Homo sapiens: one gene and its partners. The protein of the gene in region 2 interacts with the protein of the main gene of each other region in a pairwise test. Each region holds a gene or a part of one and is shown on either strand. Other genes may lie near its edges. The genes, in order: ROBO4, WIPF1, SEC24C and RER1.

Region 1 (7,224 bases), on a different chromosome or scaffold from region 2:
AGAGCAGCACTGTTTATAATAGAAAAAGAACCACTTGATATACTACATATTCAAGAAAAAGACCCACTTGATATACTACAAAGACACTCCTCTGCAAAGAATCATTGCATGTCCTTTCTTCCCAACAGCACCCAATTTTGAGTGAAGCCTCACTTCCCTGGACCCTCCACGAAATCACCCAATCAAAGCCCAAATCCTAGAATAGGTTCTTTCTAACATCTCTCTTACTTAGACATTCCATAGTTCTCCATGGCATGCACTCTCTCAAGCTGCAAGAAGTAAATCAACTTGTTCAACAATAGGTATGTTCCTGATGGTCTTTGACTGGAGGGCATTGACAGGGTGAACACAAAGCACAGTAACAGATCTCCCCTTCTTCCTGGACATGTGAGCAAATGGTTAAATATTGATGTCAGCAGCCCTTGAAATCTCCAACTGGGCAATGTTTAAGCTAGGTGTGATCCATAGTCATTGGTGTCGAGAAAGTTAAGAAAATGTAGGGTTGAGAGTATTCGATGTGATTTTAGATTCCAAGCACCTAAAATCACCCATGATGTTGATGGGACCAGAAACTAGGGAATAGATGCTGTCCAGTGAAGTGGCCTTAGGGTGAGTTTTCCAGCCAGCTAAGAGGAGGTTTTTACTGTCTTCTCTCTTGACTCAATTTCCCTCCAGCTGTTGGCATCTTGGAACAAACTTGAGAATTTATAGATTGAGACCAAGCAGACTCAAGCAAAAAAGGGGAAAAAACAAGAAGGCAAAAAGTGTGAGTCTCAAATCCAAAAAGAGTATCAAGGGGTAGCTGGGACTGGCTATGGCTGTGTTGGTCAGGCATGCTGATCCCAGAACACTCAAAGGACAACTAACACATATCTAGTGTTTTCAGAGAACTTTCATGTCCATTGTCTGTAAACCTCATGCAGACATTTTACAAATGAGGGCAGTGGGACTCAGAGAGGTTATGTGACTTACTCAAGATTTCTCTGCCAATAAGAAGTGGAAGCAGGATCTCAACCCCAGTGTAACTGACTCCAAATCCCACCTGAGTTTATCCCTTTTTCTCCACCAGCTTGGCCAGCAGGAGTCTCAGATTGCATCTTCAGAGATCACAGAGCAGAAAGCCAAAGAAGCCAGGAGCCAGACATTGAAGAGAAATTTCCTCTGGAGGCTTGCTCAGAAGGGCACCTGGTGCTTCCCCTCTCTTCTCCCTCTTACAAGCAACGAAGGGGGAGTTAGAAAACACAAAACACCAGAACTAGGGATGAAGGAAGGCACTGCTTAAACTGGTCACCAGGACAGCACATCACCAGAGCCCCAGAACAGAGCTTCTCTGAAATAGCAATTGGGGCGGCTCCCACCAAGCCACATCATCCCCATGACTCATGCAGTCGGCTCTTCCTTAGTTTGTGGAAATGAGACAATGAGGATGCGGATGCACCAGGTTGCTGGAAATGAGCCCTGCAGTCTCTGGGAGCCATCCAGACATACCCTACTGTTGGGAAGTCCCCTCGGCCACCACCGCATGTCACTCTGAGTGCCCTGGAGAAAAAGTTCTAGTGTCCTGCAGGAACAACTGAGGAATCTGCCCCTCCAATCACCTTCAGGTGTTAGCACCTAGCTCTCCAAAACCTGGGAGTAGGGTGAGGCTCTGCTGAAGGTGATCTCCAGGCACGGGGCATGTGACTGTGGGGCAGGGGACATTCCTCGGGCTGCAGGAGCCTCTGGGGCTCTGTCCCTGCGGTGCACACAGACCGTTTCACCTCTCCTTTCTCACCCTGCTGAGGACGGGGCTAGTGATGGATTGGAATTCCTTTGAGATTTGCCTTATTTTCCCCTGAGGGAAACCTAGCGTCTTTCTGGATTGTGGAGACTGGAGTAAAATCCAGTTGGCATTAAAACATTAGCGAGCACTTAATTAGTGTCCCCAAAACCAATGTAGAAGCAGAGGAGACTAAAAGCAGACTGCTGACAGTGACATTCTTGATAAGCTGATAGTCAGGGAGTCAGACAGTCTTGGAGGCTTTGTACCTGGGAAATCCCAAATTGGCCTCCTGTGCAGTAAATCCTCCAATCCCACCACATCCTTTCCTGTCTCATCCTCAGCTGACTTCAGTGTCACATGAATCTCCCCTTCATCACTCTGGCCCCACAGATCCTTGACCCCATAAACTCGACTCCATTCTGCCTGCCCCACAATAAATACACGTTAGCTCAGCTTTACGGATCACTCATAATGCATCAGGCACTGGATGCCAGTGGTTTTATGCTTTATGTATTTCATCATTACTTTATCCCTCAAGGTAGGAACTACTATTACTATTTCCATTTTACAGAGAACTACTATTACTATTTCCATTTTACAGATTTGCCCAAGGTCTCCACAGAAGCTGATTTCATCCATCTCTGAGCTGAATATGGACACATCCTGTGGGAATCTCCCAGCTTATCCCAGACGCTCTGAGTCCTTCTTGTCTCCCACCCTACTCCACCTAGTGGTCCATCTGCCCCTGGGGAAATGGACCAGGGCGTTACAATCCACCCCTGCTCCACTTCACTCAGCCTCTCCAGCCTGCAGCCCCACTGCCCTCTGTCCTCAGCTTCTTGCTGTGTCCTGAGACTCCCGGGGTTTTCATTCCTCTCTAGCAGGTGGTAAAGGGATAAGGATTGGGATCCAGGGATAAGATTTAAATAGAGGATTAAGGCTCTGATTGGAGTTATGGTTAGTGTAAGGATACACCCACAGAATTTGGGGTAGGAATTGGGGCCAGAGAACAGAATTTGGGATTTCAGAATTAGAGGTGCCAAGGGTAGTGACATTCTGTTCTCTGGCCCCAATTCCTATCCTTCCAGCTCTGCCACTCCATGACTTTCACTCTGCCTATTCTTTAGCCTCTGCAAACTCCCCAGTTTGTAGAGACCATGGTGTTTCCTTGCTCCAGTTCTGTCTTTGTCAGTATTGGTCTGAGTTTGAGAGGAAAGAGGAGGAGTGAAGGAGACTTCTACTTGGCAGGCTGTTAGTCTGTGGCTGGCACCGAAGCCAGGATGGGAAGGGGGAGGAAGGGAGGGCGTCAGCTGGGTTAGGGGCCCTGCAGAGAAGCTGGCCAGGAACAATTGGGAACAAAGGCTGGATACTCTTCCGCTGAGCCCCAGAGCCTGGCCTTGGCCTTCCGGGAACAGCTCCAGGAAATGGCTGAGATTCCAGATTTGGAAGGAAGAGGCCAGTAAACATGAGCTGGGATCTGACAGGGGAGTGTGGCCTCTGTCTAGGTTGTGGGGGAAAGGAGGCAGCGGGCAAGAGCTGACATTGTAGGCTCAAAACCTGCAAGGCCTGTCTGCTACATATATGGACACAGGCTCTTGGGACTGGAAAGACTCTTAAAAGGTCTTTTACTCCAACCACCTTTCCAGGGCCTGAAAAATACTCCTGCCGAGGATCCTCCAATAGTTTCAGTGATGGGATGGGCCTAAAAAGAAATACACAATGTTGGCTCAGCTTTACGGATCACTCATAATGAGTCAGGCACTGGATGCCAGTGGTTTTATGCTTTATGTGTTTCATCATTACTTTATCCCTCAAGGTAGGAACTACTATTATTATTTCCATTTTACAGAGAAGGAAACTGACTTGCCCAAGTTCTCCACAGAAGCTTATTTCATCCATCTCTGAGCTGAATATGGACACACCCTGTGGTAATCTCCCAGCTTGTCCCAGATGCTGAGTCCTTCCTGTCTCCCACCCTACGCCACCTCCTGGTCCATCTGGCACTGGGGAAATGGATGAGGGTGTTACAATCCACCCCTGCTCCACTTCACTCAGCCTCCCCAGCCTGCAGCCCCACTGCCCTCTGTCTTCAGCTTCTTGCTGTGTCCTGAGACTCCTGGGGTTTTCACTCTTCTCTAGCAGGTGTCAAAGGGATAAGGATTGGGATCCAGGGATAAGATTTAAATAGAGGATTAAGGCTCTGATCGGAGTTTTGGTTAGTGTAAGGATACCCTGTAAGAAATCCCCGAGTAGATCATGAGATAAAGCTTAGCGCTGAAGTTAGGGTCGGGGGTTATAGCTAAATGGTCGAGGTCAGAGAGTTTCTCGCCTCTGGTCTCCTCCCAGTTCTCCAAGGCACTGAGGGCCAGGCAGGAAGCATCGGTTTCCTCAAAGCCGCTTCCCTCCTGGGGCAGAGTCTCGGTCACAAACAACCACCACCGGCCCACCCCGCCCCTCCTTCCCTCTTCACTGTGAGCTCAGAGCAGCAGGACAAAGTGCTCGGGACAAGGACATAGGGCTGAGAGTAGCCATGGGCTCTGGAGGAGACAGCCTCCTGGGGGGCAGGGGTTCCCTGCCTCTGCTGCTCCTGCTCATCATGGGTGAGTTGCTCTCCCTCTCCTGGCCCATGCTCCTCCATCCAAGGCCTGCTCAGGGCAGAAGGGGCCTGCTGACTGCCTGCTTCCCTTTTGCAGTGGGGGGACCAGAGATGAGGATGAGGATGATGATGATGAGTGTGTGTAAGTGTATGTGTGTTTGTGCATGTGCGCACACACCAGAGAGAGAAAGAAGGAAAGAGAGACTGAGAGAGAAAGAAAGAAAGAGAGAAAGTAAGAGAGAGAGAGAGAGAGAGAGAGCGAACATGCTATGCAAGCCCTGGCCTGGATGCTGTGCATGCTGGCCCTCTCTCCTCCTAGCTGGCTTGTTCTTTGGGAGGCAACCTTTAGTAGTTCAGATTACAGGTTTTCTGGCAAACTCGCACACAAGAGAAGACAGATGAGGGGTGGGCCAGGAATTTGGGGTGTTGCTGGTGATCAGACTGGGCTCTGCTCCCTTTCCCTCCCAGGAGGCATGGCTCAGGACTCCCCGCCCCAGATCCTAGTCCACCCCCAGGACCAGCTGTTCCAGGGCCCTGGCCCTGCCAGGATGAGCTGCCAAGCCTCAGGCCAGCCACCTCCCACCATCCGCTGGTTGCTGAATGGGCAGCCCCTGAGCATGGTGCCCCCAGACCCACACCACCTCCTGCCTGATGGGACCCTTCTGCTGCTACAGCCCCCTGCCCGGGGACATGCCCACGATGGCCAGGCCCTGTCCACAGACCTGGGTGTCTACACATGTGAGGCCAGCAACCGGCTTGGCACGGCAGTCAGCAGAGGCGCTCGGCTGTCTGTGGCTGGTGAGGCCTGGGAGGGGAGCTTCAGGGTGGGGCAAACCTGGGTGGAGACATCTGAGCTGAATGTTCAAGGGAACATCTGAGAGGTCAGTGGGATACCTGTGAGCAGAGGCCTGGGCTGGAAGGCTTGGGAGGGCAAGCTGGGGCGGGGCTGGCCCTAAATGGGAGGCCAGGAAGGTGGGCAAAGCAGAAGGGGGCAAGAGTGATAAGGGAGAGAGAAGAGGCCTGGGCCCTGCTCCGTGTCACCTTCCATCCTCCCCACAGTCCTCCGGGAGGATTTCCAGATCCAGCCTCGGGACATGGTGGCTGTGGTGGGTGAGCAGTTTACTCTGGAATGTGGGCCGCCCTGGGGCCACCCAGAGCCCACAGTCTCATGGTGGAAAGATGGGAAACCCCTGGCCCTCCAGCCCGGAAGGCACACAGTAAGTGTGGCCCCCTCCCCCACACTTCATCCTGGCCTGGGCAGACCTGGGTACACCCTGATGGACTGACCTGCCGTCCAGCCCCGCATCCTCCGGTAGAATTTGAGGAGGGGAGAGCAGGGGGCCTCAAACTTCCCCCCAGCTCAGAGCCCCTCCCCACATAGGAGACTTCACAGTGAACCTGGCCCTGACAGGTGTCCGGGGGGTCCCTGCTGATGGCAAGAGCAGAGAAGAGTGACGAAGGGACCTACATGTGTGTGGCCACCAACAGCGCAGGACATAGGGAGAGCCGCGCAGCCCGGGTTTCCATCCAGGGTAAGGGCAGGGGTGGGCTACAATCAGAGCCAGGCTGCAGGCTCCAGTTGGGGTGGTGTATTCTGGTTTGGGCTGGGGTTAAGGTATGTGGGGTCAGGGTCAAAGTGCTGGGGGTCTCACGTAGCGGGAGGTTCCCCCCTGCTAGAGTAGAAATCGGAATGCTCAAGACCTGGAGACTCTGGGAGTTTGGGTTCCCTGGGGTTCCTCCCTGGCTGAGGGATGTTCCACGCCTCAGTTCTGTCACTCTGGCCTATAAGCCCCAGCCCAGCCCTATCCTCCCCACAGAGCCCCAGGACTACACGGAGCCTGTGGAGCTTCTGGCTGTGCGAATTCAGCTGGAAAATGTGACACTGCTGAACCCGGATCCTGCAGAGGGCCCCAAGCCTAGACCGGCGGTGTGGCTCAGCTGGAAGGTGAGGACCAGGTGCTAAGGGTAAAAGCCGATCCAGAGCTCAAGAAAGGGCGTTCCTGAGCTCTCTGACCCCCCGCCCTTCCTCGAAACTCCTTCCCAGGTCAGTGGCCCTGCTGCGCCTGCCCAATCTTACACGGCCTTGTTCAGGACCCAGACTGCCCCGGGAGGCCAGGGAGCTCCGTGGGCAGAGGAGCTGCTGGCCGGCTGGCAGAGCGCAGAGCTTGGAGGCCTCCACTGGGGCCAAGACTACGAGTTCAAAGTGAGACCATCCTCTGGCCGGGCTCGAGGCCCTGACAGCAACGTGCTGCTCCTGAGGCTGCCGGAAAAAGGTCAGGGCCTGATCCCTTCAGAAGCCAACAATATCCCCTCTGGCTCCTTCTTATTTGGGGGCCCCTGGACTGTTCTGCTTCAGTCTTGAGGGGAGATTATGGGTCCTACCCTGGGACTCCCTTCTGCCCTGGCCAGGCCAGCAGAGCTTCAAGAGGCTTCTTGTCTCTTCAGTAGGGTTCTGACGCTGTGTCCCCCAGCCCAGCTCCTTTCCCTAGAGTCCTCTCCCTCAGAGCCCCTCATAGTCTCTCTTCCACCCCTCCAGTGCCCAGTGCCCCACCTCAGGAAGTGACTCTAAAGCCTGGCAATGGCACTGTCTTTGTGAGCTGGGTCCCACCACCTGCTGAAAACCACAATGGCATCATCCGTGGCTACCAGGTACCCCCACTAGCTGTCATAGCCCTTCCTACTGCTGCCAGGACATCTCTTTTCTCTGGAGTTCTGCATACCCTTGCTCTGGGCACTGAGAAAGGTACCTGGGCAGAGAAGCAAAGGAAACCTGCTTTTGCTGAGCAAGGACCCACTGGCTTCCAGACCCTGCCAAGCACTTGACCTCCATGATCCCGTTTTACCTCACAGTCCACCCTGGGGTATT
Region 2 (7,024 bases):
AGGGCAGTGAGTGAGTGAGGCAGTGTTATCCAGCAGAAGAGCAGGAAGCAAAAGGACATGACTGAATGAATTGCTTCAGGGTGTTTTAGGGAGTGATTTAATTTCTCTGAGTCTATCAAATGAGCACAGCGATGCTGGCTTCCGCTGTCTTAGGAGTCAGAGACCACGCAAGGATAGAGCCCTGGATCCAGCAGATTCTCCATACATGAGAGCTGCTGTTGCTGCTGTGGAATTTAAAATTTTCATTTTCTAGACCGCCCACTTTGAATGGGACTCTTCCGAACTGTCTTAATTCTTGTTTCCCGGCGGCTGTGACAAGTCCAGCAGTGTCTTTTTTAGCTTCTCCAGTCCATTTCTGTTCACAGAAAGCAAGCCATTTAGCATTATCTCAATAGAAAGTATTTGTTTAGGTTTCAGTTTTCCACATTAACTTGTAGTGGTTGAACTAAATGAATATTTTAAATTCTAAGAAATTGTTTTTTGCAATTAAGGGACTATTGGGAGTTTAAAAAGCCTGACACAGTGGCTCACACCTGTAATCCCAGCACTATGGGAGGCTAAGGCAGGAGGATCGCATGAGGCCAGGAGTTCAAAACTAGCCTGGGCAACATAGCAAGACCCATCACAACAAAAATAAAAGATAAAAATAAATTAGCCAGGCGTGGTGGCATATGCCTGCAGTCCTAGCTAAGCTACTCAGGAGTGAGGCAGGAGGATTGCTTAGGCCCAGGAATTTGAGGCAACAGTAAGCTATGATTATGCCACTGCATTCCAGCCTGTGTGACAGAGCAAGACCTCATCTCCAAAAAAAAATTTAAAAAAATTTTTTAAAGAAATATAATTCTGCAGTTTAAAATTTGGGACACATGTCCTGTAGAAATAATGTTATTCAGGTGGCCAGTGACCCAGACTGCCCGCTGGCTTAAGGCTCGATCTCTACATAGGGCTTTAGTGCGTATGAATCACCCAGGGATCTTGTTAAAATGCTGAAACGAATTCAGCTGGGGGCAAAAGGGACTGGGAGTTGACATTTCTAACAGCTTCTGGGTGGTGCCCACGCTGCCTATCCAGGACCACAGTTTGTGTAGCAAGGATGGGGTGGGAGAAGCTGGCATTGCTTAGGGATGAGAACAGTGGGTGAGGCGTTGTCCTAGACAGGGCAGAGGGAGCAGGGGTTCTAGTGAGGCGAAGGAACAGGACTGCAAGGATTAGAGGAAATGGGGAGAGGGCTCCTGGCTGGTGTAACTCACCAGGCACTTCCTGGCCATCGTCTCTCCTGGCCCTGGTGTTTGCCAGGCTGCCCTCTCCGCCCTGCCCCCTCACCCACCTGGGGTCCCTAAACTTTCCTACCCAGCTACGGAATCTGGTCTTCCCTTTGTTTTCAGAGCAAGCACACTCTGCAGAAAGGCTCTTCTTTTTTATTTTATTTATATATAATTTTTTACCCAAACAAAGCTAAGACAGGCTCTTCTAAATGAAATGCATTTCTGGTAAACAGCCTGGGAGTCCTAGGTCTGACTTCTCATGCCCGCTCTGTTTTCGCTTAGATCCTCTGAGGAAATGCTAAGGAGCACAGAGATAGGGATGGCTGGTCTTTGAGTGCTCCAAACATAAGGTTGACCCCCCACACGTCCACCCCGCCTCAGCTGCTGCTCCCTGCTTTCCACCTGACATTCTCCATGCCCTCTCCCTGGAGGACTAGGAACTTTGAGGGCGGGACTAGAAGTAGATTCATTTTCATATTCCTGCAGTGCACACACAGACTTGGCGAATGTCAGGAAGAATGGGAGGAGAAAGCCAGAGGGGGTGGGAGAGCATGAAAGGATTGTCATGGAAATTAGCGAAGAGGAGAAGCCACTTGAAGTGAATTTGTTTTCAGTGAAACTTGGCCAGGATACATCCTAGCAGTTGTGTGAGACCTTCCTGCTTAACTGGGCCCACCTGGGTCGGTCATGGCCTACTGTAGTGGGTGGGGGAATGGAGCCGAGTAAGGCACTGGATGTGGCCTCCATTCTCTCCAAGCACCTCGGGTCAGAAGCCCCTCTGCCGGGATCCTTCCAGAACAGTAATGTTTTAGCAGTGAGGTGTAAAGGTAAGCCCATCTCTTCTAAGAGTTGAGCTAGGTGGAGCTGTCACTTTGGTGGGAAAGTGAAGACAGATTAGGACAGTATTACTAAGATTACATCTAATACATGATCGCATTCTTGTTTTTCCAGATTTATCAGCAAGACTGTTGAACGCATAACTGCCCAAGATGCCTGTCCCTCCCCCTCCAGCACCCCCGCCGCCCCCGACGTTTGCACTGGTGAGTGTCTCCTCCCCAAACACTTTCTATGCATAAAGCAAGCCAAATGAAGCCAAAACCTGGCGTGCATGTGTTTGTATTAAATGTGTTTGCATTCTGGCTCACATGTGATACAACAGGCTTTCCCAGTGCCCAGGGTAAGCCAAATCCTGAAACCCAGCAAATACAAACAACACGAAGGGTTTTGTTTGTTTAAGGTCTCGTGTGATGGATAGTACAAGGGTGGAATGTGGCTGATGAGGTGTTTTCTGCCGCATCTGCGCAGGGACATGTGCTGGCCCAAGATAGGGTTTGCAGGATCAGTTCTGAGACCAGTGTGCACTGTTTTCATTCAGATGAACTCAATGTCTGGCCTTTAACTTCTGGGCTGGACGGTCTAGAAACCCAGGTCTCTGCCTGCAGTGCATTCCATTAAAGTGTCTTCCGGTCTCACTCCTTTCTTTTTTTCTGCCTTTTCCCCTCTTCTTCCCAATCTGTTTTTGACAAATATCTCCCTCCACCACCTCTGCCATACACATTCACATCCTCCTTTAAATCTATACTTGCATTTAGGCATTTAGATGTTTATTTCCTGAAAGAATTTCTTCAGTGGATTCATCCTGGTCTTTTTTTTTTTTTTGAGTCTCGCTCTGTCACCCAGGCTGGAGTGCAATGGCACGATCTCAGCTCACCGCAACTTCCACCTCCCGTTCAAGTGATTCTCCTGCCTCAGCCTCCCAAGTAGCTGGGACTAAAGGCAAGCACCACCATGCCCAGCTAATTTTTGTATTTTTAGTATGGACGGGGTTTCACCATGTTGGCCAGGCTTGTCTTGAACTCCTAACCTCAGTTGATCCACCCACCTCGGCCTCCCAAAGTGCTGGGATTACAGGCGTGAGCCACTGTGCCCGGCTCATCCTGCTCCTTTGATAGACCTCTTTGGGGAAGTTAGTGTGCCCTCTTCAGGAATTTGGCAACTCTCCACTTGGTCATATGGAAAGGCCCCAAGATACGCTCTGTTACAAAGCCCTCTCCAGCTTGTGAAGCCTTCACTGAGGAGGAGCCTCACACTGATGGTTCCTTCATTTTCACCATTTTCACATGGGGAAACTGAGGCTTGGAGAGAAAGTTTCTTGCCCCAGGTTTCCATGAGACACATTTATATAACTCATCTGAGGTTGAAACCTAGTGAGAAGAACTGCCTATTAATTAGCTTATTGTTACTCAGAGTGTGGCCTTCCAACTGCTTTTTAAGAGTCCCCAAAGTGATGAGGACAAAAGTTGAAAGTAAGCATTTAGAAGCATTTCTAGCAATTTGACAGTAGTTTTCTGTTTCTAAGATTGGATGTTGTGTGTCTTTTTTAAAAAACTAATTCATTTTTCTAATAATTCATTGTTATTTTACAAAAGCGTCAGTTCCTGATGAAAATATTTTTCAAAAGACTGGTCCTTGGCCAGGCGTGCACTTTGGAAGGATAACTTGAGCCCAGGAGTTCGAGACCAGCCTGGGCAACATGGCGAGACCCCCATATCTACAAAAAAAATGTTAAAAATTAGCCAGCCAGACATGGCGGTGCGTGCTTATAGTCCCAGCTACTCTGGAGGCAGAGATGGGAGGATTGTTTGAGCCCAGGAGGTCAAGGCTGCAGTGAGCTGTGATTGCACTACTGCACTCCAGCCTGGGTGATAGAGCAAGACTCTGTCGCAAAAAAACAAAAAACAAAAAAAAAGTTGGTCCTTCACATGGGTAAGTTTGAGAACCTCCAATCTGGCTTACATAGCAGGATTCATTTATCCATGTTTCCCCAAAAGTGTGGGCTATAGTGAACTGACTTAATAAAAAATATTAAATAAATAACACAGGTGGTATGAGAAGATGACAAAAATCATGAATCTTATACCAGAATGCTTGAAGTTTGGGAAACCTTGCTTATCTTATCAACTCATTTCTATCCGTTGTTACCTAATTCAAAGCAAGATTTTGGATAAATAGAATATAGAGATGAAGAAAGGGAAAAGGTGGGTTGGTGGCCATCATAGAACACTGCCCTTGTGAAACAACATAATTAAGGGCCCTGAACATGAGAGAAGTTAGCACCCAGGGAGGTCAGCTGTCAAAATAAATTTTGAGGCAGAACAGGAGGCTACTGAAGGTTGCTGACCCAAAACTGTTAAGAGATCCAGTGTGACACATCACTTAACCTCTCTAGGCCTCAGAGTTTTTTCATCCTTAAAATGAAGACAGCAGGTAATGTTAAGAGCTCTTTTCCAGGACATCCAAAGTATGTTAAGTTGAAAACAAACAAGTTGCAGAACAATAGAGGAGAATCCCATTAGCAAAAGCAAACTGTGTATGCAGAGAGCATTTCTGGAAGGACAGCAGAGAAACTTTTAACAAGCATGCTTCAGCGGTGTGTTGGGGCTGGATGGGGAGGGGCATTTTAGAGCCCACATTTATCCTTCTATCAGCTTGTAGGGAAGGCTCTTGACTGCCAGGGTTTGAATCCCAGCTCCTCCTCAACTAACTAGGTGCCTGGGGCAAATGATTTAAACTCCCTATACCTCAGTTTCCTTGTCTGTAAAATGGAAATAATAACTCACAGGGTTGATAAGGGCTAAATGAAGTAATACACATAAGGTGCTGAAAACAGTGCCTGGCACAGAGTATATGTTAACTATTATTATCATAAGCAAGTAATACTTCATCATTTAGTTATTTCAAGATGCTTCCAACTTTACCACTGCAATTCTGGTTAGCCTACTTCAGGGTTTTTCTGAGTTCTTCCTTTGCCTCTAACTCTGCTAATAAAAGGCTGAGTTAGGCCAGGAGCAGTAGCTCGTGCCTGTAATCCCAACTACTCAGGAGGCTGAGGCAGGAGGATCACTTGAGCCCAAGAGTTCGAGGCTGTATTGCATGATGATCACACCTGTGAATAGCCACAGCACTCCAGCCTAGGCAACATAATGAGACTCTGTCTCTAAAAAAAAATTGTTTTTTAAAGGCTGGGTAAGGTATTGAGCCATACATTTCCCCAGCTTTTCCTCCTGTGGCCCTAACTGGCAAATCTGAAATCATATCCCTGTCAGAAGGGCTGGGGCCAGCCTAGAAAGGACCTGTGGGTTTGGGGCAGCCAGACTCTCCCTGAGACAGACAAGACCTAGCCAGTTTCCAAGTGTGATAGACACAGGCACACAGGCAGGTGCCTACATCTAAGTCCATTTGCTGGTCTCTTAGTGTCCCCAACTCCCTGAAGGAACAAGATCCCAATTTCATAGTAGGTAGGGATCTTTCCTAGGAATTCTGGAAATATAAGAAAATAATCAGACATGTTAAAGCAGCATTTTTGTCCATTCCACAATTTCCATGAGCTAAGCTTTCATCAGAATTAAACATCAGAAACACCTCATGCCAACAGGACATGAGGGAACTTTTGAAGTAATGAAAATATTCTATATCTTGATTGTGACGGTGGTTTCACAACTGTATATGTTTGTCAAAACTCATAGAGCTGTAACTAAAAAGGGTGATTTCACTATGTGTAAATTACACCTTAATAAATCTGACTTAAAAAGAGAAAAAAAGCATCTTTGGCAATATACACAGAGGGAATTATTTTCTAGAACTTTAGTGGGTTTAAAAAACATACAGCTGACTCTTTTTGCTAGAGACAGTTTTTCCCTTGCACTGGGGTAGTTCTAAAAGATGGGAAAAGGAAGTTATTCTTCAGGGTACCCTCTAGTGAATGACGTCTGGTAATGTCCTGCAGAATCCTCCCAGACTTAAAATTCTTTTCTCGTGTCTAGTCATCTCACCCTAACCTGGCCCTGTTAGTTTCAGTCAGATTGTGGTCTGAATTTTCAGAGACTTTAATCAAGGACTGACTCTTCCTCCCTTAAAAATGAACATAATTTATTGCTGCATCTGCTTCCAAACGTCTGGATCTTAAAAAGAAAGATATGGGGTCTAAAACTTGTCGAGAATTTACAACCTATCACCAAGAACCTTAACAACAAGCTTCCCGTACCCAACCTTTCCCAGCCGAGTGTTACAATGCATGATTTTAACCCAAGAGATGACTACTTGTTTGTATGGCTCCCTTTCAGGCCAATACAGAGAAGCCTACCTTGAATAAGACAGAGCAGGCTGGGAGAAATGCTCTCCTTTCTGATATCAGCAAAGGGAAGAAACTAAAGAAGACGGTCACCAATGACAGAAGTGCACCAATACTGGACAGTAAGTAAAAAAAGGCTATCTACCATGGAGAGGAACAGTTTATGGCCTAATAATCAACCCTACCCTCACCACTCAATTTTTATTTTATTTTATTTTTTGGTTAACAACAGCTGCAAAGCTAGCAAAATAAGGGACTGTATCACTCCCTGTAGGCCGCAGCTTTGGCTTGGGTTCCCCTCTAATGCTGCAAGAAGCCAGTATAATAATTCTTTGTCCAAGACATACACAGCAGCAATTCTCTGCATTATTCACAACACTTTCTGGAGATTAACCCATTGCTCCTGGCACCACAGATGAGGAGGCAGCATAAAATATGGAAAGAGCCCTAGCCTTGGAATCAAAAGCTGTGGGTTCAAGACCTGGCACATCCATCCTGTACCATCTCCAAGCCTTGTTTTCTTCATTTTAAAATGGAGATGATAATACATGTTCTATTGACCTCACAAGTTTGTCATGAGCTTCAAATGAGATAATGCCTGTAAAATGTTTTGTTGTCTGGAAAGTGT
Region 3 (7,024 bases), on a different chromosome or scaffold from region 2:
TGCCCTCATAAACTGTCGTTCACTCTTCCCCATCCACACAGCAGAAGCCTACCAAACAAAAGTACTGGGGACTTCCTCCTAAAACTGTCCAAGTAAGAGCAGAGAAACCAGTGAGGCTTTCCTTCTCTTAACATCTAACATCAGAGAATTCCCACCTGCTCTACCCATTAGGAAGAATGCCATCCTTCTAGATCTAAGGGGACAAGACCCAGTCACTGCTCCACAGAAGGACAAAGGCTACTATACTATGTATGTACAGTAGTGACAGAGTGCAGCCCTCAGACATCTACTGGTGCTGCTGCTCACTCTTGGTTTCCCTTCCTTCTCTGCCCAGCTATAGAGTAAAACAGCCCCCCAAAAGACTCCTAGAACCTCAAGTTCCAGTTCAGAATCAAATTATATGTAAGTTCTCCAAGAAGATGAACAAAAAGGGAAAATTATCAGAAAATGCTAGGCAAACATTTCATCTAGATTGACCTGCCTATCTGGCAGACACAAACCCTTCCTCAGGACCATGAAAGTTTCTACTTACAGGGCTTGGGATGGCATCAGGGTCCAGGCGCTTAGGAGGCAGTGGCTGAGGAGGCCCAGGCTGACTGCCAAAGGTGGGTGCTGCTGGGTAGGGGCCTCCATAATTAGACTGAGGGCCCCGGGCTGGTCCGAAGGAACCTGAGACAAGGACACAAGGTTGATGAACTCAAAATCCCATCCCTATCTCTTCTTAAGGCCTCAGGAAAATGACTAGACTCCTAAAAACATAGAATTATGAGGCACACTAATGCCTGGCAAAGACATTCAGAAAAATACCATGTTATCAGAACGACAAGAAAAAATAATGTCTTACAAACCCCATATCCTAGGAATAATACCCTGAAGCTACCCATCTAATTCACCACTTAGCAAGTAATACTAAAAACAAACAAATAAAAAACATCAAAAACCACCTGAGTAGCTGAAGCCTCTAGCTTCTAAGACAGACCTTGGGAAAGACTCACCATTTTGTTGGGGCTGATAGCCTGGCTGCTGCGGGGAGTGCATAGGTGGCAGTGGTCCCAGGGGCCCAGTCATCTGGGTGCCAGGGGGCAGAGCTTGAGGAGGTGAAGACACATGGTTGGGCTGGCTCACTGAGGGCCCTCCAAAACTCTGTCCAGGCAGGAGTGGACCAGTCATCGAAGGCAGCCGAGGACCCCCTGAAGCTGGGGGTGTGAAGCTGGAGGCCTGTGATGGGGCAGATCGCTGGGGAGTCTGGATCCCAGGATGACCTTGGGCCTGGCTAAGGGGAGGAGCCTGGCCCTGAGGATAGGAGCCATACAGACCAGAGTTAGGGAAACTTCCTGAGGCTGAAGCCAGCGATGTTGGTGGGCCTGAGAAGTAGAATAAAGGTAGAGTCAAAAGCCCAGTCATTCTGCCTCCTTGTTCGGTATATCACTTCCCTTTCCACACAAGAGGGGCAAATATGACTGTCCCATCTTCTGAGGCTCAGAGGCACAGGAAATACAAGGGAAATAAAAGAGATTCAGGTATAACCCCAGAGTCTGATGCCTCTGAACAGGGGACAGTAACATTCCTGTGTTCACAGCCACTCACCAAAGCCCAGCCCTGAAGAAGGAGGGGCTGGGGCCACAGCACCGCTGATCTGCATTCCAGACAGCTGCGTAGCCACCTGTGCACTTGTCGGGGGAGGGCCATAGGGCTGAAGCACAGGTGGCTGGTTGCCCACAGGGGCCAATGGGGACCCAAATGGCTGAGACCCAGGCAGCCTGTGAAAAGAAAGCAAGCAGAGGTGACTAGTGGGGCCAGGACACCCTTTGAAGTCTACAGAAGTGTCACATCATACAGGAAGCTACATTGTTTTGTGACATCTTACTCTCACACCCTGAGTTCTTTTATGGCTTCATACTTTTGTATATTTGTGGGTAAATTATATTCCTGATTATTCATGGCAAATCTTGTTTTCCATTAAGCTCACTCCACAAACATAAACCAAGCACCTTCAGGTCAAGTACTATTTACTCTGCTAACTAAATTACTGCTTCCTCTGCTTCAATTCTTTGACAAACCTCTTCAGTTTTGTAATCTGAAGCCCTGAAAGCACTGAAAGGGAAGGCACGCATAAGCATGCATGAACCTTAATAAATATGAAATCAAACAAATGCAGATTGATTGTCCAGCTTTTTTTTTTTTTTGAGACAGGGTCTCACTCTGCCACCCAGGCTGAAGTGCAGTGGTGTGATCACAGCTCATTGCAGCCTCAACTTTCCAGGCTCAGCTGATCTTCCCACCTCAGCCTCTCAAGTAGCTGAAACGAAAGTCACACGCCACCATGCGTGGCTAGTTTTCGCATTTTTTATAGATACGGAGTCTCGCCATGTTGCCTAGGCTGGTCTCAAACTCCTGAGCTCAACGAATCTGCCCGCCTCAGTCTACCACAGTGTCTTTCCAATATACTTTCCATTCAGTGTCTCCCTCTCTGATTATTCCCATCAGCACAAAAACATACAAACATCTCACACACACACACACACACACAAAAACCAACTATAGTGGAAACATCCCAAATGTCTATCAGCAGAAGAATGGATAAACAAAATGTGGCATGTAGCTACACAATGAAAAACCACTTAACCACAAAAAGGAATGGAGTACTAATATACACTACAACATAGTTGAACTTTGAAAATATTATGCTAAATTAAAGAAGTCAGTTATAAAATATCACATAGTATATGATTCTATTCTAATGAAAAGTCCAGAATAGGGAAATCTTTAGAGACAGAAAGTAGATCAGGAGTTGCTTAAGGTTGGAAGAATAGGGGAATGGGGGAATAGCTAAACAGGGGTAGTTAAAGAATGCAGTATTTCTTCTTCAGATGATGAAAATGTTCTAAAACTGACTGTAGTGATATCTGTCAATATACTAAATTGTGACAGCACATATCTGTCAATATATTAAAAACCACTAAATATACAAAAACACTTTAAACAGACGAATTGCACAGTATATGAATTATATCTCAAAAAACTTTTTAAAAATCCAACCAAATTACCTCACAGCCCCCTCAAACTTTTGCTCCCCTTTTAGCTAAACATTACAAAAGAATAGGTCTATACTCTGTCTCTACTTTTTTTTTTCTTTTCTTTTCTTTTGAGACAGAGTCTCACTCTGTCGCCCAGGCTGGAGTGCAGTGGTGCGATCTTGGCCCATCACAACCTCCACCTCCTGGGTTCAAGCAATTCTCCTGCCTTAGCCTCCCGAGTAGCTGGGACTACAGGTGCCCACCATCATGCCTGGCTAATTTTTGTATTTTTAGTAGAGACGGGGTTTCACTATGTTGGCCGGGCTGGTCTCGGAACTCCTGACCTCGTGATTCGCCCGCCTCAACCTCCCAAAGTGCTGGGATTACAGGCGTGAGCCACCGTGCCCAGCCTTACGTTTTTTTTTTTTTTTTTTTTTTTTTTTTGAGACAGGGTCTCGCTCTGTCACCCAGGCTGGAGTACAATGGCACTCACTATCTGTGGCTCACTGCAGCCTTGACCTCCTGGGCTCAAGCAATCCTCCCCCTAAGCCTCCCCTCCCAAGTATCTGAGACCACAGGCACACACCACCACACCTAGCTAATTTTTTTTATTTTTTGTAGAGACAGGGTCTTGCTATGCTGCCCAGGATAGTCTTGAACTCCTACCCCGGCTTCACAAAGTGCTGGGATTACAAACATGAGCACTGTGCCTGGCCCAACTCTAATCAAAGTGCCTTTCTCCGATAATCCCTTCCAGCCCGGACTGAGGTGTGGTTGTTCTACATTTGTTTCCAGAAGGTACTCCAATAATGACAGTGTCACCCTAGATTGATTTTTTTTTTTTTTTAGTTTTTGAGACAGGGTCTCACTCTGGCACCCAGGCCACAGTGCAGCGAAGCCATCATGGCTCACTGTAGCCTCAACCTCCAGGGCTCTAGCAATCCTCCTGCCTCCACCTCTGCTTCCCAGGCACACCAACAATGCTCAGCTATTTTTTTTTTTTTATAGCGACAGGATCTCCCTATGTTGCCCAGGCTGGTCTAAAACTTCTGGCCTCAAGTGATCCTCCTGTCTCAGCCTCCCAAGGTGTTGAGATTACTACAGGCATGAGCCACTGCACCTGGCCTCTAATTTAAAAAAAAAAAAAATTAGGCCAGGTGCAGTGGCTCATGCCTGTAATCCCAGTACTTTGGGAGGCCGAGACAGATGGATCATTTGAGGTCAGGAGTTCAAGACCAGCCTGACCAACATGGTGAAACTCCATCTCTACTAAAAAAATACAAAAATTAGCCCAGGCGTGGTAGTGCACACCTGTAATCCCAGCTACTCAAGAGGTTCAGACAGGAGATTCACTTGAACCTGGGAGGTGGAGGTTGCAGTGAGCCAAGGTCACACCACTTCACTCCAGCCTGGGTGACAGAGCGAGACTTCATCTCAAAAAAAAAAAAAAAAAAAAAAAAAAAAATTGGCCAGGAACAGTGACTCACACCTGTAATCCCAGAACTTTGGGAGGCCAACACAGGTGAATCACTTGAGGTCAGTTCAAGACCAGCCTGGCCAACATGGTGAAACCCTGTCTCTACTAAAAATACAAAAAATTAGCCTGGCATGGTGGTCATGCCTGGAATCCCAGCTACTTGGGAGGCTGAGGCAGGAGAATCACTTGAACCCAGGAGGCAGAGGCTGCAGTGAGCTGAGATCGTGCTATTGCACTCCAACCTGGGCAATAAGACCAAAACTCTGTCTCAAAAAAAAAAAAATATTACTGAGATGTAATTTCCATACCATTAAATTCACTTCAAGTGAACAATTCAATGATTTTTAGTAAATTTAGTTATGCAACCATCACCAGAATCAAATTTTAAAACATTTTCATCATTCCAAAAAGATGTCATGTCCATTTGCAGTCCCAAGAACTTTTTTTTTCACCCATCCACAGCCAGCCTGAGAGAAACAGCACTCCTTATCTCCCCTTTCCAGCGTGCAGACTTTTTTCCCCTAGTCAGCTTGTTCAATGAAGGTGCAGCCCAGGTCCAGACTTTATAAACAATGTCTCAGTTCCAAAACTACTCTCAGGAAAGCCCAAGGACTCATCTGCCTTCCCCAGTACCTGCTTAAATTTAAGGCCCTGGCTTCTCAAGATGATGAATCCACCCAATCTACAGGCAGCTCCAGAGTCAATTTACCACTCTGATTTTCAGTCCTCACTTGATGGCCAGGCACAGTGGCCCATGCCTGTAATCCCACCACTTTGGGAGGCCAAGGTGGGCGGTTCACCTGAGGCGAGGAGTTTGAGACCAGCCTGGCCAACACGGTGAAACCTCATCTCTACTAAAAATACAAAAATTAGCCGGGCATGGTGGCCCACATCTGTAGTCCCAGCTACTTGGGAGGCTGAGGCAGGGGAATCGCTTGAACCTGGGAGGTAGAGGTTGCAGTGAGCAGAGATCGTGCCACTGCACTCCAGCCTGGGCGACAGAGCAAGACTCTGTATTTAAAAAAAAAAAAAGATTTTCAGTCCTCACTTGGTCTCTAAAACTTAAGAATTTCACATTTTCTTTCAAGCTTAACTTTGCACTTAAAAATTTTTTTTGTTTCTATTTTCTCTCTCCTTTCTAGACTTTGGTAGCAGAGGGTTTTCAGATTATGTCAATCTACCACCCGGTTGAAACTTTTTTTTTTTCCTGAGACGGAGTCTCGCTGTCTGTCGCCCAGGCTGGAGTGCAGTGGCAAGATCTCGGCTCACTGCAAGCTCTGCCTCCTGGGTTCACGCCATTCTCCTGCCTCAGCCCCCCAAGTAGCTGTGACTATAGGAGCCTGCCACCGCGCCCAGCTAATTTTTTGTATTTTTAGTAGAGACGGGGTTTCACCGTGTTAGCCAGGATGGTCTCGATCTCCTGACCTTGTAATCCACCCGCCTCGGCCTCCCAAAGTGCTGGAATTACAGGCATGAGCCACCGCGCCTGGCCTGAAACTCTGACTCACTCCAACTGGGTAGTTTTCTTTATCTCTACACTGAAACTGCCTTTACCAATGACGCCAACCTTGCCAAATTCAATGGTCAATTCTCCATCTTCATCTTACAATTTGGCAGCATCTGACACAACTGATTACTCTCTCACCTTCTTGAAATACTCTCTTCACCTGACTTCAGGACACCACACTCTCCCGGCTTATCTCCCACCTCACTACTGCTCTTTCTCATTGTCTTTTGTTTTTTTTTTGTTTGTTTGAGATGGGGTCTTACTCTGTCATTCAGGTTGGAGTGCAGCGGTGCGATTTCGGCTCACTGCAACCTCCGCCTCTTGGTTTCAAGCCATCCTCCCACCTCAGCCTCCCAAGAAGCTGGGACCACAGGCATGTGCCACCACACCCGGCTAATTTTAGTATTTTGGTAGAGACAGGGTTTCACCATGTTGCCCAGGCTTGTCTCGAACTCCTGAGCTCAAGCAATCTGCCTGCCTCAGCCTCCCAAAGTGCTGGGATTACAGGAGTGAGGCACTGCACCTGGCCCCTCATTGTCTTTTAATGGCGGCTCCTCTTTACTTTTAAATGTTGCTAAGCTCCAAGTCTCAGTCCTCAATTCCATTCTTTAATCTCAATACTCACTTTTTAAATGATTTCATCTAGTCCCACGGCTTTAAATATCTATAGACTGAGGACTCCCAAATTTTTATCTCCAGTCCTAGCATCAGTCTTGAGCTGCAGATTTGTATATGCACCTGCCTACCTAACATCTCTACTTGAATAGAGTTTATATGAGGGACTTGAGCCTTTGTGGATTTTGGTATCTGTTGGTCAGGGGAGGTCCTGGAACCATTCCCCCATGGATACTGAGGAATGACTGTAGTGAGATTTGGGATACATCTTGAAGGTGGAATCAATAGAATTGGATGTGGGTTATACGGCATCATATTTGCATATAACCTCCCATATACTTTTTTTTTCCTGAGACGAAGTCTCACTCTGTCGCCCAGGATGGAGTGCAGTGGCACAATCTTGGCTCA
Region 4 (7,024 bases), on a different chromosome or scaffold from region 2:
ACTGTGGCATGGCCACCAGTGCTCCCTCCCGTCCCAGCACATGGCCAACAGATGCCACGGCCCTGGAGGCTCAGCTCTCCCTTCCTAGTCCAAGCTTCTGGTGGCTTCCAGGGCCCCTGATCTTTCTGTACCACACTCCATCTGCGGCTGCAAAGTCAAGGCGTGGAGCCCCACGAGCTCAGCAGGCTCCTTCAGTTTACTGATCTAACAGACTTGGGTTCCTCCTGTGCTCCCAGAGTGGGGTATGAGGGACAAGACAAACGGATGCACACGCTCCCGTCCCTCTGACGGCTGCACCACCCACCTCTGCCTACCCGTGCAGACACGGACACCTCGGCTCAAACCCCTCTCAAAAATGACTCCAGGAGAAGGCTAGTCCCTCTGCCAGCCAAAAGGAGCCACAAGGCTGGGGATGGGAGAGAGGAAGGAGGAAGGAGGGAGGAGGAGGGAGGAGGAGGGAGGAGGAGGGAGGAAGGAGGGAGGAGGAGGGAGGAAGGAGGGAGAAGGAGGGAGGAGGAGGCAGGAAGGAGGGAGGAGGCGGCAGGAAGGAGGGAGGAAGGAGGAGGGAGGAGGGAGGGTGGAGGAGGGAGGAAGGAGGGAGGAAGGAGGGAGGAAGGGAGGAGGAGGGAGGAGGAGGGAGGACAGAGGGCCTGCCCTCCCCAGGCCACAACCACAGAAGCCGGTGCGCACTCCATCCCAGACTCAACCTCCAGGGCACTGGTGCTGACTTGAAACCAAGAGAATGCGGCAAGGTAGTGAGTGGCCTTCTACAGAGAGCCCCTGCGATTCCCCGTGCCCAGCCCAGCACAGCAGTCATCTTTCAGGTGACTTGAACAAAAATCAGTGTAGTCTCAGTCTCAGCCACCCTTGAGCACAATTCTCTTCAAATACCGTGAAGAATTAGCTCACCAAAATTTAAACTCTGGGAGCCTTCGAATGAAGGGGCGGAATTCCTCGTTCTGTTTGGTGGGTAGCGAAGGACCGTCATCTGTAAGGCAGAGCAACCATCAGGGAGGGCACCTCTTTTCATTCCCATCACAGTTCTACCTTTTCCCCTCAAGGCTTTGGACTAGCAGGCCTCACAAATCTAAACCGAGATTCATGTCATTTAACCAGAGAAAACGAGAAAACGGGGGTCTGTGGTCAACTGACACATCCAATTCACTGCTTTCAGAAGGTGCTATCAGAATGTTTTTAGACTTCCACACGTTTTCAATGCACGAAGAATTCAACCACATATAAACATCCAGGAACACGTCAGCTGCACCACGTAAAGGCACAGAAGAAAACAAAGGCAAATTAACATAAAAAGCAAGCGGCAGAGAACAGGGCGGGGCCGAGGATGCGCTGACCGTGGAACCCGGGCGCCAGGCCTGTCCCACCAGCAGCTGTGCCAAGCCCACTCTCACCCCGCCTCCCCCACTGGGATGGGTGCCGCTCCCCATTTACAGATGGGAAAACTGAGGCCTACAGGAAAGGGGCTCTTTGTTATTTTCTAGTCTCCTCCAAACAGCAACAACAGAGAGGGGCTGTGTTCCCAGCAATCTTTTCATCACATATCCTACACAGAAGACTCACAGGCTTCTGGCCACACAGTGAGAGCATACCCTACTCCCTGACAGCAGGTTCCCCCAGAACGAGGAGGGTCCTGGCAGGGAGCTGCGTGTGGGTTTTCCCTCAATGGCCACCACGTCCTGGAATGCAGTTGTTTGTTCCTCGCCTGGGGCTGGCCAGTCAGGCATGAACTCAGGGCCCCTACCTGGCCCAGGCAGGCCCAGGAGCTGCGTAAGTCTTCCAATAGTGGAGCACGAAGCACCAGGAACACTTCAGCTCACAGCTCCTCAGAAACCAGAGAAGGCCGCCCAAAGCCTGACCCGACCCGATGCTGGCATTAGAGTCCCGGCGGTCTCTGTGCACCACAGTGAGCTGCCTGTGGAACCCTCTGGCTACGGGAAAAGGTAACCTCGTCATGGCTGCCTCCGCTGATTCTGAGAGGGACCACTGACTGGGGTGGGACGGGGGCTGGAGTCGGACTGTCCACCTCAGACCCCTACTGTCTGTGGTGCCATGTGACCTCGAACACGTTACCTAACCCTGTATGCCTCAGTTTCCTCATCTGCAAAGTGGGAAAACAGAATGAACACCCACTTCGTGGCTGTCAGGAGGGTTTGAAGAGTCATTCTACAAACATATCCTGATCACCCAACATTACAAGTACATTTCAACCCCAAGAGAAGAGTCTCGGGTGTTTCCAGAGAACACTGGGCAATCCCATCAGAAAAGAAAGGCCCAACCTGCCCACACAGCCCAGTGCACAGCCGCTACCCTACCTGAGTCTTCCATTAAGGAAGGATCCACTTTGGGAGAAAGAAAAGCTATGAAAAGATTTAGATGGTAGATCCCCAAGGCATAGGTCACAATGTACCAACCCTGAAAGAGAAGGAAAGAGAGTCAGTGGTGCACTCTGACCGTCCATCAGCCTGAGCCAGTTCACGTTTGCACTCCGGTTCACTCTCAACTTTGTTAACTGATCTAACTTTGTTTTAACACAAAACTTACTCATAGCAAGGACAAGGAAATACAGTGAAATCCCATGGTAACAATTTATCTCAAATTATACTCTGTGGGAACAGAGACAAAGCGGACAAGCAAGGGCCCAAATGAGCAAAGCTCTTCAAGGGTCCAGTTAGACACATGTGATCCCTGAAGCCACAGACGCCCCACAAGGAGCGCAGCAGAAAAGGAGGCTTTTCTCAAGAAGCACATGCTCAAGCTACACCACAGGCTCGGGTGGCCCGGGCACCTGAGCGATGCTGGCCCAGAGCCCCACCCAGGAGCAGCTTCATCAGAAACAGAAGACAGACTCTCAACTGTGACTGGAGGCGTGCTGGCTGATGTTCCTCCAACAGACAATTCACATTGCCAAAAACACTCTGCCAGGAGGGTTAAACCTTTGCCCAGAAGAAATCCACAACTGGGAAATCCAGAAAAGTGTGCTTATGCCAAGCCTTCCTCAAGAGATGAAAAGTGGGGAGAATTTTGGCAAGATGCCTGAGTGCAGCACACTTATTTGCAACTAATTCATTTTTTAAAATGATTAAGCATATCCCGTTAAAAGCCAGAACCGCATTCTCAATTTCAAAAGCCTTAAATTTCTGTCGGGTGTGGTGGCTCACGCCTGCAATCCCAGCACTTTGGGAGGCCAAGGCGGGTGGATCACCTGAGGTCAGGAGTTCAAGACCAGCCTGGCCAACATGGTGAAACCTCGTCTCTACTAAAAATACAAAAATTAGCCAGGCATGGTGGCACATGCCTGTGATCCCAGCTGCTCGGGAAGCTGAAGTAAGAGAATCACTTGAACCCAGGAGGTGGAGGTTGCAGTGAGCCAAGATCAGGCCACTGCACTCCAGCCTGGGCGACAGAGTGAGACCCCATCTCAAAACAATAAATAAAAATATAAATGCTTTAACTTTCTTATACAAACAAGAAGTCTTTCTGCCTAAAAGCTTTTCCAGTCAGACGGCTGAACGCCAGATGTGAGGGCTAACTGATGTCTGTGTGTCCATCCCTGGCTGAACGCCGGATGTGAGGGCTAACTGATGTCTGTGTGTCCATCCTCGGCTGAACGCCGGATGTGAGGGCTAACTGATGTCTGTGTGTCCATCCTCGGCTGCAGGGCCACACCTGAAGAGACGCCAAATGAGGCACGAGCTTGGTTTCGAACGCAATAAAACTGACCTGTGGGTGCTGCACTCTTCCCGCCCCCTGCTCCTGCCTGAAGTCCCTGATTCAAGATTTCTAGGTCATTCTTTCCATCAGAGAATGGACCCAGTTCCAATTTAAAAACAAAAATAAATAAATAAATTAAGGTGTGTGCTTTAAACAAGGAAGTATCTTCTACAGTCCCCAGAGGAGAAAATAGCCCAGACAAGGCTTTCAACATGCCCTGCTCTGCACATAAGATTATGTAACCTCCTCTAAAGACCGACGAAGAATTCCCATCTTACAGGTTTGCTCCTAGAAACCCCGTGTTTACCAGCAAGTAAAGGAGCACCCAGGTGAAGTCTGAGACGACATCACCTGACCTAGGGGTGCCCGAAAACACACGAAGGAAACCCTCAAGACCCCCTTCGGTCACTGTCTCTCTTACTTGACTCGGCGTCTCAACCTGCACTGTGCTTTGGCCTCACACAAGGGAGAGCTCAGGAAAAGCTACATAAACCCTTTGGACGCCGAGTCATTCATGACACCCAAGGCATGGACTCTTCACCCAAGGAATGAGGCAGCCACAGAGCGCAACCTTGTCCTGAGCATCATGCAGCAGGGTCGGAGGGACACCAGCGGCTCCACTGTCCAGGCCTGGACGTGCCCAGGGCAGGGCCAGGCTGGGCTCAGGACGGCCTGGGTATACTGAGAAGCCTGGCGAGGCGACTCCGGGTGAATCATAAACAACCCTGTTCGTTAAAGACAGTCACTGAGATCTTTCTGACATTTGGCGTTTAGCTGAAAATTGATTACTAGAGACCACTTCCTGCAAGACAGACTGGATCAACAACATCCCCACAAACATCACGCCCAGGTAACGTGGACAGAGCCAAGTCTCGTCACTTCAGCCCACACCTACCTGCAGCAGGTAAACTCGAATCATGTAGACAAAGCTCAGGCCCAGTGTCACGACCCATCGCACAGCCGTGTAGGGTGTGGACTTGTCTAGCCAGGACTGATAAATCTAGAAAGACAAGAGTCCAAAAGCATGAAGCAGGTCCTGTAACTTCTGTACTGACCCTGCCACAAAATGTACCTTCTGCTAGGGTTGGCTTTCAATTTTTAAAACAGCTAAAAGAGTGAGTTAAAATAGCAAGAGATCATCTATGTATCAGCACAAAGAAGTGACTACAATTAATCCAAAGTTTATTTTCAATAATTCCTGAAGCAGGTTCATCTCTTAAGCAAGACTATTACAAAACAATCTCCTAGGAGACTGTGACATTGTGCTGGCCCCAAGGGATCACTATGGGGAAGACCCAGCCTCACCCCAAAGAGAGGACTGTGCATCTCAAAGTCCCCACCCTACAGCACAGCCCTTATCGTCACATCTCAAGTCAGCTCCCCCATCTGCAGCAGCCAGCAGCCAGCCTTGCCCCGCTCCCAGGCCCACTGGCCACAGCCTGAGCCCCAGCAGCCACACCCACATGTGTGTGCGTCCAGGCGGCTGTGGACATGACCGAAGGAGCCCTTAGTTTTATGTATTTATTTTTACAAATATACATATGTATGGTTTTTTATTTTAATTTAGAAATTTAATTTTCAAATTGTGAGAAATTTCCAAATTCACAAAAGTAAAAAGATTATAGAAGCTTACATATGCCTGTCACCCAACTTCATTAATCGCCAATCGCTTTTCATATGTGATTTAATTAAGGTGATGAATTTTTATTTGAGCCGGATCCTCAGCACCTGGAACTGCCGGTGACCCAAGCTTTTCCTGACAGAGGTTCGGACTCCAGCGTTCAAAGGCAGCTCTAGGTCCCTCACTCACCAAGCAATGCACACGCAGCCCACACAAGAGCCTCTCACCCTCAAGGACAGAACCGCCGAGCTGACACGGGGCAGGTGGGGCTACCAGCACCGGGGACGTGGGTGGCTGGGAGAGGGACAGCAAGAGCAGAACGGCAGCCACGGCCGCATCTGTCCTGCCTGGGAGCTGAGACTGGGTTTTATATTTTTAAAGCTTGGTAAAAGGAAAACAGAAACAGAAAACGCATATGTTTGATAGACCACGTGTGGCCCCAGAGCCCGATCTCTCCACAGCTGGCCCTTCACAGTGAAGAGAACGCTGTCTTCAGGAAGTTTGAGCCTGAGGCGAAGTAACTTCTCCATCAGGAACACCAGCAAACAGATCCTTCCCGAAAATGCTGGGAGTCCCGTTTCTTTTTCAAATATTTATACTCATCTACTAAAAAACCCACCAACCTGTCCAAGTCTTGTGAAAAATCTGTACACCACCGAAGGTTTCCCATGGACGGATTCTCCCACACTGTCCCCTTCAGACATTCTGTAACTGGGAGAAAAACACAAAATACTTTTCAGTAAAAAGCATTCACGGGTGTGAAATCCTGGCCCTATTTTCACCAACACTGTCAAGTAGGTTTCTTCCACATTCAGTATTTTGTCCATATACCATTTGTGTTTTTACCATGAATTGTTCGGGAAAAAGTAGCAGGTACACAGGCTTCCCTGGAGAGGAAGGGCAGCGTGAGACGCATGGGCCCAGGAGCACAGGCCGCATTTTCATTCCCACACTGGCACCTCAGTCACCTGCGTGGGCGGGACTGTCCACCCCACTGGCCCCAGGAGCAGCCTTGCTGGCCATGGGGTCCACTGGCTGGTCCATGGCACGTGGCACTGCATGTCCTCCCTCCAAGGACCGCACCCTCTGTGGATCCCTCAGGGTTCCCCCGCCCAGGCACCTTGTCTGCTCCACGCCCTGTCCTGGGTCTCTGGTCTGGCAGGAGCAGGAGGGATCCTGTCCTCTCAGGGCCAGGTCCTCCACCCCATGAACAGGAAAATGTTATCTACAACTCTCAGGTAGTCCATCCATCTGCGTCCCAGTTTCTTATCTGGCAAGCGGAGGTAACGTATCTGCTCCTATTTCAACACTGCTGTGATGCCATGAGGAATTCACCTGAGAACCCAGGTGCCAGAGGTCACATTGTTCACCCACTTAATTCCCAGATGCTCAAGTGAAGGGCATCATGACCCCCATTTCACCAAGTCTCAAACAGTGGAAGCCACGTGTCCAAGGTCCTGCCACAGCCCTGCTTCTGGGCAGGCCAAGCCAAGCCTGACTGCCACCTGGCTCCTCAGCTGAGCACGCCGCCACCCCACTCCTGAGAGGAGACGGCGTCAGGACCTGCCGCTCTTCGGTAAAGCACAGCTCAGTACCCAGGGCCTGCCGGTTGTCATTCCTACTTTAAAGATGAGAGGCCTCCTGGCCCCTGAGCTAGAGAAGACGCCAGGGGTG

What was found.
Region 1: the proteins of WIPF1 (region 2) and ROBO4 interact in a two-hybrid assay, tested with the Homo sapiens proteins (one study listed by IntAct).
Region 3: the proteins of WIPF1 (region 2) and SEC24C interact in binary tests that used the Homo sapiens proteins (3 or more experiments, as listed by UniProt).
Region 4: the proteins of WIPF1 (region 2) and RER1 interact in binary tests that used the Homo sapiens proteins (3 or more experiments, as listed by UniProt).

The regions. Positions count from the first base shown.
Region 1 is NC_000011.10:124,894,864-124,902,087, reverse strand, and holds the start of ROBO4 (roundabout homolog 4 isoform 1 precursor), read left to right. Parts: upstream 1-4,222; 5' UTR 4,223-4,292; coding exon 4,293-4,362; intron 4,363-4,826; coding exon 4,827-5,156; intron 5,157-5,417; coding exon 5,418-5,575; intron 5,576-5,769; coding exon 5,770-5,890; intron 5,891-6,175; coding exon 6,176-6,303; intron 6,304-6,402; coding exon 6,403-6,631; intron 6,632-6,894; coding exon 6,895-7,007; intron 7,008-7,224.
Region 2 is NC_000002.12:174,580,804-174,587,827, reverse strand, and holds part of WIPF1 (WAS/WASL-interacting protein family member 1), read left to right. Parts: intron 1-101; exon of another isoform or gene 102-355; intron 356-2,216; 5' UTR 2,217-2,254; coding exon 2,255-2,305; intron 2,306-6,388; coding exon 6,389-6,518; intron 6,519-7,024. UniProt on the Homo sapiens protein: Plays a role in the reorganization of the actin cytoskeleton. Contributes with NCK1 and GRB2 in the recruitment and activation of WASL.
Region 3 is NC_000010.11:73,754,358-73,761,381, reverse strand, and holds part of SEC24C (protein transport protein Sec24C), read right to left. Parts: intron 1,761-7,024; coding exon 1,588-1,760; intron 1,365-1,587; coding exon 996-1,364; intron 670-995; coding exon 533-669; intron 1-532. UniProt on the Homo sapiens protein: Component of the coat protein complex II (COPII) which promotes the formation of transport vesicles from the endoplasmic reticulum (ER).
Region 4 is NC_000001.11:2,394,821-2,401,844, reverse strand, and holds part of RER1 (protein RER1), read right to left. Parts: intron 6,062-7,024; 5' UTR 6,055-6,061; coding exon 5,974-6,054; intron 4,730-5,973; coding exon 4,625-4,729; intron 2,431-4,624; coding exon 2,331-2,430; intron 989-2,330; coding exon 910-988; intron 1-909. UniProt on the Homo sapiens protein: Involved in the retrieval of endoplasmic reticulum membrane proteins from the early Golgi compartment.